Regions from separate parts of the Homo sapiens genome. Here region 2 is linked to region 1. The links come from fine-mapping of genetic effects on gene expression. A gene starts in region 1. The other region holds a variant in brackets. All regions are shown on one strand. Distances are between the middles of the regions.

Region 1 (5,240 bases):
TTCAAGCCTACAAGTGAGCCATGGTTACACCACTGCACTCTAACCTGGGAGACCCTGTCTCGAAAAACAAAAGTAAAATACAAATTCACCATTTAAATCATAAAGTGTCTACTTTGGTGGTTTATGGTATACTCACAGTTTTGCAACCGTCATCGCACTCTAATTTTAAAAGGTTTTCAACACTCCAAAAGGAGACCCCATACCCATTAGCAGTACCTTCCCATTTCTGCTCTTTCATCCCTCAACCCCAGGCTACTTTTATGTTTCTTGGCTGTATGTGATTTTGTTATGTTTGTTTATTTTGGATTTATTTTATTTTGGATTTATTTCTTTCCTTTTGACATGGAATCTCATTCTGTTTCCCAGGCAGTGCTTCATCTCAGCTCACTGCAACCTCCACCTCCTGGGTTCAAGCGATTCTCTTGCCTCGGCCTCCAGAGTAACTGGGATTACAGGCGCCCATAACCACGCTCGGCTAATTTTTGTAGTTTTAGTAGAGATGGGGTTTCACCATGTTGGCCAGGCTGGTCTCGAACTCCTGACCTCAAGTGATCTGCCTGCCTCGGCCTCCCAAAGTGTTCAGATTGCAGGCATGAGCCGCTGCGCCCAGCCCATTTCGGATTTTTAGAAATTGATTACAGATTTTATTTATTTATTTATTTGATACAGGGCCTCTTTCTGTCTCCTAGGCTGGAATGTAGTGGCCCAATCATAGCTCATTGCAGCTCAATTCCTGGGCTCAAGGGAATTCTCCTGCTTTAGCTCCCAAGTAGCTAGGACTACAGATGTGTGCCACCATGCCCAGATAATTTTTAACTTTTTGTAGAGACGAGGCCTCACTATGTTGCCCAGCCTGGTCTCAAACTGCTGGCCTCAACCAATTCTACCACCTCTGCCTCCCAAAGTGCTGGGATTACAGGTGTGAGCCACCCCACCAGGACCCTGATGGGAGAAATTTTGCATTTATCATGATGATCAACCATTTCCTTATCATGTGTATTGCAAATATATATATATGTATATATACGTATATATATGTTTATATATGTATATATGTGTATATATGTATATATGTATATATGTGTATATATGTATATATGTGTATATATATGTATATATGTATATATACATATATGTGTATATATATATATTTTTTTTCTTGAGACGGAGTCTTGCTCTGTCATCAGGCTGGAGTGCAGTGGCACAATATTGGCTCACTGCAACCTCTGCCTCCTGGGTTCAAGTGATTCTCCTGCCTCAGCCTCCCCAGTAGCTGGGACCACAGGCGCCCGCCACCACTCCCGGCTAATTTTTTTGTATTTTTAGTAGAGACGGGGTTTCACCATGTTGGCCAGGATGGTCTTGATCTCTTGACCTCATGATCCACCCGCCTCGGCCTCCCAAAGTGCTGGGATTACAGGCATGAGCCATCGCGCCTGGCCGTGTACTGCAAATATTTTTTATCCATTTGTTCTACTTTGTTGATGGCATCTCTTCTCGTACAGATGTTTATATTTCTTTCAATATTTTCTTTTATGATCTTTTGACTTTGATTCATGAGTATAAACATTTTCCCTCCTCCAATTATAGAGCTTCTCCCCATATCTTCTTCTGGTCTTTTACAGTATTGCGATTTGTCTGTTTTCAATCTATTTTTTTTTTTTTTTTGAGACGGAGCCTCTCCGTGTCGCCCAGGCTCAAGTGCAGTGGCGCGATCTCTGCTCACTGCAAGCTCCGCCTCCCAGGTTCAGGCCATTCTCCTGCCTCAGCCTCCCGAGTAGCTGGGACTACAGGTGCCCGCCACCACGCCCGGCTAATTTTTTTGTATTTTTAGTAGAGACAGGGTTTCACCATGTTAGCCAGGATGGTCTCGATCTCCTGACCTCATGATCCGCCCGCCTCAGCCTCCCAAAGTCCAGGGATTACAGGCGTGAGCCACCGCGCCCGGCCTTCAATCTATTTTGAGTTTAGTTTGAGACAGTAAGACTAAAAGCACTTAACATACATTATTCCACTTAATCCTCCAGGCCATTCTGTTAAGTGGGGGTTATTTTCTTCTTCATTGTACAAATGTGGAAATGGAGGCAGGTCGATTTAAATAAGGCCGCAGAGCTAGAAAGCTGCAGAGAAGGGGTTTGAACCCTGCACCTCTGGGGCCAGGGCAGTGCGGGTGGCCGTCCGCGAACCCTGCTAGCTGTGGTGCTCGGGGGCAAGCTTCCGAGGGCGCGGCGGGCGCGAGGAGCGCGTCCGAGACTCGGTGGAGCGTCACCGGCGCAACCCCGCGTGCCCAGCTCCAGGCCGTGTTCTCCCAGGTGCGGGCCGGCGGGACCCCGCCTTCGGCCCTGGCGGCGCGCGCTCGCCTAGCGGGCGGGCACTCGCGCGCAGCGTTTGTGTTGCCTGCGAGTTTCCCGAGTTCACACAGGCCCTGGGTTGGCATGGCAACCAGGCAACCTGTTCCAGAGCCGCCAGCCTTCTCCGCACATGCCGCTGCCACCGCCGGGGCCGGGGCCGGAGCCTATCCCAGGATGCACCGCGCCAACCCAGTCCCCAGTGGGCCGCCATGTTGTCGGAGTGAAAGGTAAGGGGGAGCGAGAGCGCCAGAGAGAGAAGATCGGGGGGCTGAAATCCATCTTCATCCTACCGCTCCGCCCGTGAGTATCCGCACCCCACCGGCCCCAAACGCTGCTCCGGACCCCTAACGAGCAGATTGTCCCTTCATATTGGTGTTTGAGAGTGGTTGTGGGGGTGAGAAGGGCTTTGGAAAAGCCGCCGGGGCCCTGGCTGAGGCTTCTCACTCGCTGTTCCTCGTACATGTTTTGGAGTCAGCAGCAAGGCCCCTATTGTTATCAAAGGAGGGAGGGGGTGGGGAGCGGGGTCGAAGCTAGGAAAATGCTGGGGGTTTAGGCCCGAGCCCAGGGCGTAGACGTGCCTCTACATTTTTGCCTGGCCCTGTTGGGAACCACCGAAGATTGATGTTGCCATTCGGGTTGCTTTTTTTGATGGGTTTGCGAAGCCCCGAGTCTTCTGTGTGGCCATGAAGTGTAATTCTGTGCCACCCCGATTTCTTCGACTTCTTGAGCTTCCGTGGCAGCGCCGGAGGAGGAGGAACAATAAATCGCTTTAGAAGCAGCCGTGGCCCTTGTCCACAGGCGAGATTCACCGTGGGGGAACTTTGCGAGCCTTAAATGTGGAGAAGTGGCGATCAGGAAGTTTCAGAATGCTTTTTAGGCTCCTGGGTTGCTGTGGCCTTTTGTTTCCGTGTGAGCTTGTGTTTTTGGTGGGTTCTTCCTTTTTGAGCCTCCCGGTGTTGGTGTCTCTCTTCACTCAAAGAGGGGTTCACCCCTTGCTAGTAGGAAAATCTAGATACACAATACTAGTTTTAGTCCTCACAAACATGCTTGGTAAACATAGATCATTTGTTTTACTTGTCAGTACCATTCCCACGTCAAGTGAGGAATACACTCCTGTAACTTTTCCCTCCTATAGCCCCCCCCCCCCCCCCCGCTGAAAAAACAAAGCCAGAAACCCACACACAGCATTACCAGAGAAGGCTTTATTCTCCCGTAACTTAGATTGTTACCTTTTATTGTTCAATTAAGAAAACACTGTTCTCAGCCCTCGATACCATTTTGCTCAATTCCTGTTATTACTGGGATTAATTAAGAATAAGATTTTATGAAGCTTTTCCTGGGTTCTGTTTTAAAGTCAGTTAACTTCTGAAACAATAGGCTTAGCATTTTGTTTCTTGAAAGCACCTAAAAACTTACTAAGACAGGCCCAACCCCAAGAAATGTGGCTTCCGATGCAGTTTTCGTAAGCAAAATAAACATTTTGACCCTTTGCTAATTTTAACTTTATAAAACACTGGGGGGCTGTTGATTCTTTATCTGGGCTCTTGGGAAACGCTCTCCGGATTCTGAACTTTGAGTTAGTGTTTTGCTTTAGCGACAATTGAATTCATTTTGTTCAAGGCCACAGCTTTTTGAAGTTGGAATTTGTTTAGTTTAGGTTTAAAATGAACTGTTTTAAGATAAATTTATGACCACAGAATGTTTGTTAAGTGTGGTAAAAATAAACACCTTTTAAACCACTAAGCATTTTAGTAAAAGGTGAGCCATGGAAATAAAGTAAACCGTGTTCCTTTGAATTCAACTCAATTAGTGATATTTTAAAAAACTTTGTAAACATTTGAAAGCTGTGAAAGAGTAGCTGGACTGAGCACTTCTAGTTGCTTAAAGTACTTATAAGGTGTCATTTGTAAAAAAATCACATTTTAAATGCTACACGTATTAGTGAGCTTTTCTGATATTTAGGATACTGAGTTTTTAATTTTTGTGCCGTATTTGCCAAAATACCACAAAACTACCCAAGATAACATGTTAATTGCTTAGGTATTTGCTCACTTTGAAACTGTTCTGCCAGGTTTTCTCTGGTTTGAGAAACTGCCTTGCCTCTTTAGGTAAAGCAGGAAGTCTTAGGGCATACAGATAGCTTTACAAAAGCCAATTGTTTCGTTTGAACATTTTTATAGGAGTCTTTTCTTTCCCCCATTCCTTTTAGAATGAAGGTGTGTTTAGTGTGCGTCAGTGATAAACTCCTCTTTTATGTGGATATTCTTTGTTAGATAACTTTTTTCTTTTAAAAATTTTTATTTGTATAATTTGTGAGGTACAAGTGTAATTTGTACATGCGTGTATTGCGTAGTGGTGAAGCCAGGGCTTTTTGTGTGTCCATCACTGGAATAACGTACATTGTCCTCCTTAGGTAATCTCTCATTATCCTTCTCTCAGCCTCCTAGATAACTATTTTGAGAAGGCTTTTATTTCAGAAAAGATTGCATTTGCTGTTTTAGGAATTCTGTTAGGGACTGGAGTTGCCTTAACTAGGGGTAACTAAATTCTAAGAGTCTTAAGCACGATGACTTTAAATTTACCAAAAACTTTTATATTTATCTCATTTTCATTAAGAAAAACCCAAAACATTGAGAGTCATAGAGGAAGGATTTCTTTCATTTTCTAGATGAGGAAACAGGTAGTTTTGTTTAGTGAAAGAACTTGGGTTTTGGAACTCTTGGCCTGCTCTAGAACAAAGATTGTTAGGTCGAGATTTCCTTTTAGAACAGAATGGGACTGTCTAGTATTAGTACTAAGAGAGTAATGAATTCTTTAAAAAACCAAGCAGGGAGGCATTAGGCTGGTTTGCACTTTTGAAAGACCGATGGTGAAACCGGGCTATGACTT
Region 2 (5,240 bases), 640 kb after region 1:
TCTTCCAGATTTTCCAATTTTTTAACTTGTAGTTGTTCATGTTAGTCTCCAGTGATCCTTTGTATTTCTATAGTATCAGTTAATTTCCCTTTTCATTTCTGGTTTTATTTGTGTCTTCTCTTTTTTTAGTCTAGCTAAATGTTTTTCTTTTCAAAAACATTTTGTTTATCTTTTCAAAAAACCAACTTTTGGTATTTGTTTAGTCTCAATTTAATTTATTTCTGTTTGGATCTTTATTATTTCTTTCCTTCTATTAATTTTGGGTTTGGTTTGTTCTCACTTTTCTAGTTTGTTGAAGTTCATCATTAGGGTGTTTATTTGAAATCATCCTACTTTTTATTTCTTTTTTTATTGCTATAAACTTCCCTCTTAGTACTGCTCTTGCTATATCCCATAGATTTTGAGATGTTGTGTTTCCATTTTCATTTGTTTCAAAAATTTTTAAATTTTCTTCTTTATTTCTTCATTGGCCCATTTATCATTCAGGACCATGTTGTTTAATTTTCATGTATTTGTGTAGTTTCCAAATTTCTTTAGTTCTTGATTTCTAGTTTATTTCACTATAGTCAGAAAAGATACTTGATATGATTTCTACTTTTGTGAATGTTCAGACTTGTTTTGTGGTCTGATGTATGGTCTGTCCTGGAAAATGTGCCATATGTTGATGAGAAGATTGTCTATTCTACAGCAGTCAGATGAAATGTTGTGTAAATGTCAGTTAGGTCCATTTGGTCTAGAGTGTAGTTTAACTGATGTTTCTTTGTTGATTTTCTGTTTGGATGATCTGTCCATTATTGAGAATGGGGTGTTGAAGTCCTCTACTATTATTATATTGAAGTCTATCTCTCCCTTTAGATTTATTAATGTTTACTTTATATATTGAAGTGCTTTGGGATTGGGTACATTTATATTTACAATTGTTATATCCTCTTTGTAAATTGATGTATTTATAATTTCATAGTGACTTTGTGTCTTTTTATAGCCATTGACTTGAAGTCTGTTTCATCTGATGTAAGTGTAGCTATATCTAGTCTTTCTTGGTTTCTGTTGCAAAGAATATCTTTTCCATCCCTTTACTTTCAGTCTACATGTGTCTTTACAGGTGAAGTGAGTTTTTTGTAGGCAACATATGGTTGGGTCTTATTTTTTTTATTCGTTCAGCTGTTCTATGTCTTTTAATTGAAGATTTTAGTCTATTTGCATTGATTGTTATTATTGATAGGTAAGGACTTGCTATTGCCCTTTTGTTACTTGTTTTTTGGTTGTTTTGTATAATAACTCCTGTCTTCCTTTGTGGTTAGGTGATTTTTGTTCCTGGTTGTATGTTTTAATTCATTGCTTTTTATTTTTAGTGTATCTATTATAGGTTTATGCTTTTGTGGTTACCATGGGGCTTACAAAAAAATCTTATAAATAAAACAAGTTACTTTAAACAGAAGATAACTTAGCTTTGATCACAAAGAGAAGAAAAGAAACAAAGGAAAAACTAAAAAACTCTACATGTTAACTGTATCTCCCCACATTTTGGCTTTTTCTTGTTTCAATTTACATCTTTTCATATTGCCTCTTAAGTTGCCATAGTTGTAATTACTTTTGATAAATTTGTCTTTTAGTCTTTATACTAGAGATGTGAGGAAATTATACACCACAACTACAGTATTAGATTATTCTGAATTTGTCTGTGTATTTACTTTTCCCAGTGAATTTTATACCTTCAAATATTTTCTTCTTGCTCATTAGTGTCTTTTTCTTTCAGTTTGAAGAACTCGCTTTAGAATTCTTGTAAGATGAGTCTAGTGGTAATGAATTCCCTCAACTTTTGTTTATCTGAAAAATACTTTATTTCTCTTTCATGTATAAGGGAAAGCTTTGCTGGGCACAACATTTTCAGTTGACAGGTTTTTTTTCCTTCAGTGCCTTAAATATATCATACCACTCCTTTCTGACCTGTATGGTTTCTGCCGAAAAGTCTGTTGCCAGACACAACGGAGCTCCTCTCCTTTACGTTATTTGATTCTTTTACCTTGCTGCTTTTAGAATCCTCTCTTTGTCCGTGACCTTTGAGAGTTTGATTGTTATATGCCTTGGGGGTGGTCTTATTTGGATTAAATCAATTTGGTAATCTCTGACCTCCATATACCTGGATATTTATATCTTTCTCTAGGTTTGGAAAGTTTTTAAAATTATTTCTTTGAATAAGTTTTCTACCTGTTGCTCTTCTTCAACTCCCTCTTCCGTGCTAATTACTCTTAAATTTGCTCTTTTGAGGTTATTTTCTCTATTTTGTAGGCTTCCTTAGTTCTATTTAAATTTATTTT[TC/C]TTTTTCCTCTTCTTACACTGTATTTTCAAATAACCTGTCTTTGAGCTCACTGATTCTTTCTTCTGCTTGATCAATTCTGCTGTTGAGAGCCTTTAATGAATTTTTCAGGTCAGCAAGTGTATTTCTCAGTTCTAGGATTTCTGTTTTTATATATATATATTATTTCAATCTCTTTGTTAAATTTCTCTGATAAAATTCCTCAACTACTTTTCTGTGTTATCTTGAAGTTCACTGAGTTTCCTTAGAACTGTATTTTGAATTCTCCATCTGAGACCTCACACATTACTATCTTGTTAGGGTTGGTTACTGGCTCCTTGCTTTGTCCACTTGGGGAGGTCATAACTATGACCTGTTTGCTGTGTTGTTTCTTGTGGACTACACCTATGACTGCATTGAAGGATTAGTTATTTATTCCAGTCTTTGCTGTTTGGTTTGTTTTTGTCTTTGTGGGGTATAGAGTATGTTTGCTTAGATGTTCTCTGCAATTGCCTCCCAACGTCCCTTAATCTTTTATCTCTTCCTCCTTTTTGGCACTAGATGGTGCCTTACACTCAGAATTGCCTCAGCTCTTGCAAATATTCAGAGCGCAACCTATCCTAAATTGGGGGAAGGGTGTCCCAGAGGGGATATCCAGTTGTTTGGGAAGGATGATCCAAAAGGGGATGCCCCAGCTAGATGGGAAAGCTGGTTCATGCCCAGAAGACCCATGAAGCCTGTCTCCTACAATGTGGTGCTGCTGAACAGCCACTATGATTTGACTTTTCCTTTGGCTGAGATAAAGAGCAGAGTTTTTCAGGTGGGGTTGCTGGTTTTGCCTCCTGCCTTTGTTTCTGGCTGCCCCCAGTGGTTTTTCTCCCTACAGGCACTTGTGATGCTTCCCATGGGTTGTGGCAAGAATGGCTTTTCTGAAAGGGAAGCCAAGATGGCAGGAAAGCTGGCTGTTTATCTTGATCTCACTTTTTCCAGTGTAAAAACTGTGAGTACAGGAGGAATTTTCCATACACGATGCCTGGCAGATTGAGGGAGAGGTGTTGTGGATACAGAAGTCCATTTCTTTTACCATCTGCTCAGAATTTTTAATCTTTCTGTGGTCCCAGGGATTGTCTCAGTCTCATATTTGAGTTTTGGGACATTGCTGGTTGCAATCTTTGCACTGGATATATATATATATTTGGTTTTCTGTGGAGGAGAATGAAGCCAGATTGCTTCTACTCTGCCATTTTGGTGACATCACCCTGCTTTTCATATATTAAGCCGAATTTGCATTCTGGATAAATCCTACTTGCTTATGGTGTGTAATCTTATTCACATTCAGCTTATTAGTGTTTTGGTGAGGATTTTTGCATTTATATTTGTAAAGAATATTATTCTACAGTTTTATTTACATATTAGCTCTTTTTCTAGTTTTTGTATTAGAAAAATACTGGCCCCACAGAATGAATTGGATAGTGTTTCCCTTTCTATTTGAACAATGTAGTTGTCCTAGTTGAATAAAGGATTGGTGGCTTACAACAATTGGGGCCTTCCACCCTTTTGTTACCCCTACCTGCAGAATGGACACTTGCCTCTCTTCCTGTGATTCTGAGACCACTCAAGTGAGAACCCAGGGTTAAATCCCCAGTCAGACTGGATTCTTCCCTCCCCATGTCCTACATTTTTCCACTCCCAAGTCCAGAGTCGAAGAGCAATTTTCCCACATATCTTTCCAGTTTCCTCTTCTCTTTTCCCTTTGCCCTGTCCTGCTCCAAGCCTCCGCTCACCCCTCACCTGTATTATTTCAAACGTTCCTCACAGGCCTCTATGCTCCCCCACCTCTAGCTGCTCTGCAGAGACAGTTTTCTAAAACCCCAATAAGAGCAAGTGGTGGCCCTGCTCTGTGTCCTTCTCTGACACTCATTTCCTGAAATTCAAGGATTCCAAAAGGCATCCACTATGCACCCCTTATATCAAGGTAGGGCTTCTATATCCCCAGGGTGCCTAGAGGCAGGAGCTGAAGCAACCAGCCACTGGCACACTTCTTCTTGGAGCTTTCTAATTTAGTACTTCAAATCTATGCACATTTTCCTCTCTATGATTTATCCATGGTGTTTTAAATATTAAGTAATGGGCATTTCTCTGATCTTGGAGAAAGATGACACTCTGGGAAGATGCTCCGTGCCTGCTCCATGGCTCGCTGCTGTGTATTCCCCAAGGAGACAAGGAATTAAAGTGTCAGATGGGGACACCTTCTTGGATGTTAACTTTACTATAAGTTCAGGAAAAAATGCCCTTTATTACTTACTAAAACAGTCATGAAAAAGATTTCCCCAGGGATTGCACAGCACCCAGTCTTCTCTGAGCAGACCTCTGACTAACTTCCCCATATCACCATCCACCACTTCATCTCTTTGCTCCAAGCCTCATCCTCAGATCTCAAATACAGCTTATGCATACACAACATAAACAGTCATGCACACACCCACCCCACACACAGTACACTCTGGGGCTCAGAACATGACACTCCAAAGTATGGTGCTTTGGCATGCTAGGTACTTTGAATTAAAGGAGATCAGAAGGTCTTGAAAGCAGATTCTTTCTGACCTTCTCCTATCTGCCTGTCTCCTGCCCTTCTTTCTCCTGCAGAGTGAGTCTGAGTCATAGGAACCAGAATTCTTCTTCCCCAAGGTGGGTCATAAAACCTAGAACTCCTCTCCCACAAAGCAAGACATAAAACATAGGTCTTCTCTCTTGAAGACCTTCCTTCCAGAGGGGCCCTGCTCATACCCAGGGTATAGGGGAAGCCAACCTACACAGAGAAGCTGAGAGGAATCCCTCTCTCTCTCTCTCTCTCTTTTTGAGATGCAGTTTTGCTCTGTCTCCCAGGCTGGAGTGCAGTGGCACAATCTCGGCTCACTGAAACCTCCACCTCCTGGGTTCAAGC

Alleles and levels. Alleles are on the strand shown, and positions count from the first base shown. SD is a standard deviation of normalised expression in the study named.
For the expression in prostate of the gene that starts at base 2,550 in region 1, allele TC in region 2 goes with a lower level than allele C (large effect, 0.86 SD a copy in GTEx).

Evidence for each region. PIP is the estimated chance that this variant, and not a neighbour inherited with it, causes the effect.
Region 2: its variant is fine-mapped to the expression of PUM1 in prostate (GTEx, PIP above 0.99).

What each region holds. Positions count from the first base shown.
Region 1 is chr1:31,063,027-31,068,266 of GRCh38, reverse strand. PUM1 (pumilio RNA binding family member 1) reads left to right here and starts at 2,550. Exons shown (of 22, transcript NM_001020658.2): 1 at 2,550-2,651. RefSeq lists a silencer at 2,244-2,463 and enhancers at 1,792-2,706, 2,574-2,893.
Region 2 is chr1:30,425,450-30,430,689 of GRCh38, reverse strand. No RefSeq gene overlaps it. Among named protein-coding and RNA genes, the nearest start is that of MATN1-AS1, 290 kb to the left of the region's middle. The variant TC/C (reference allele first, on the strand shown) is at 2,319.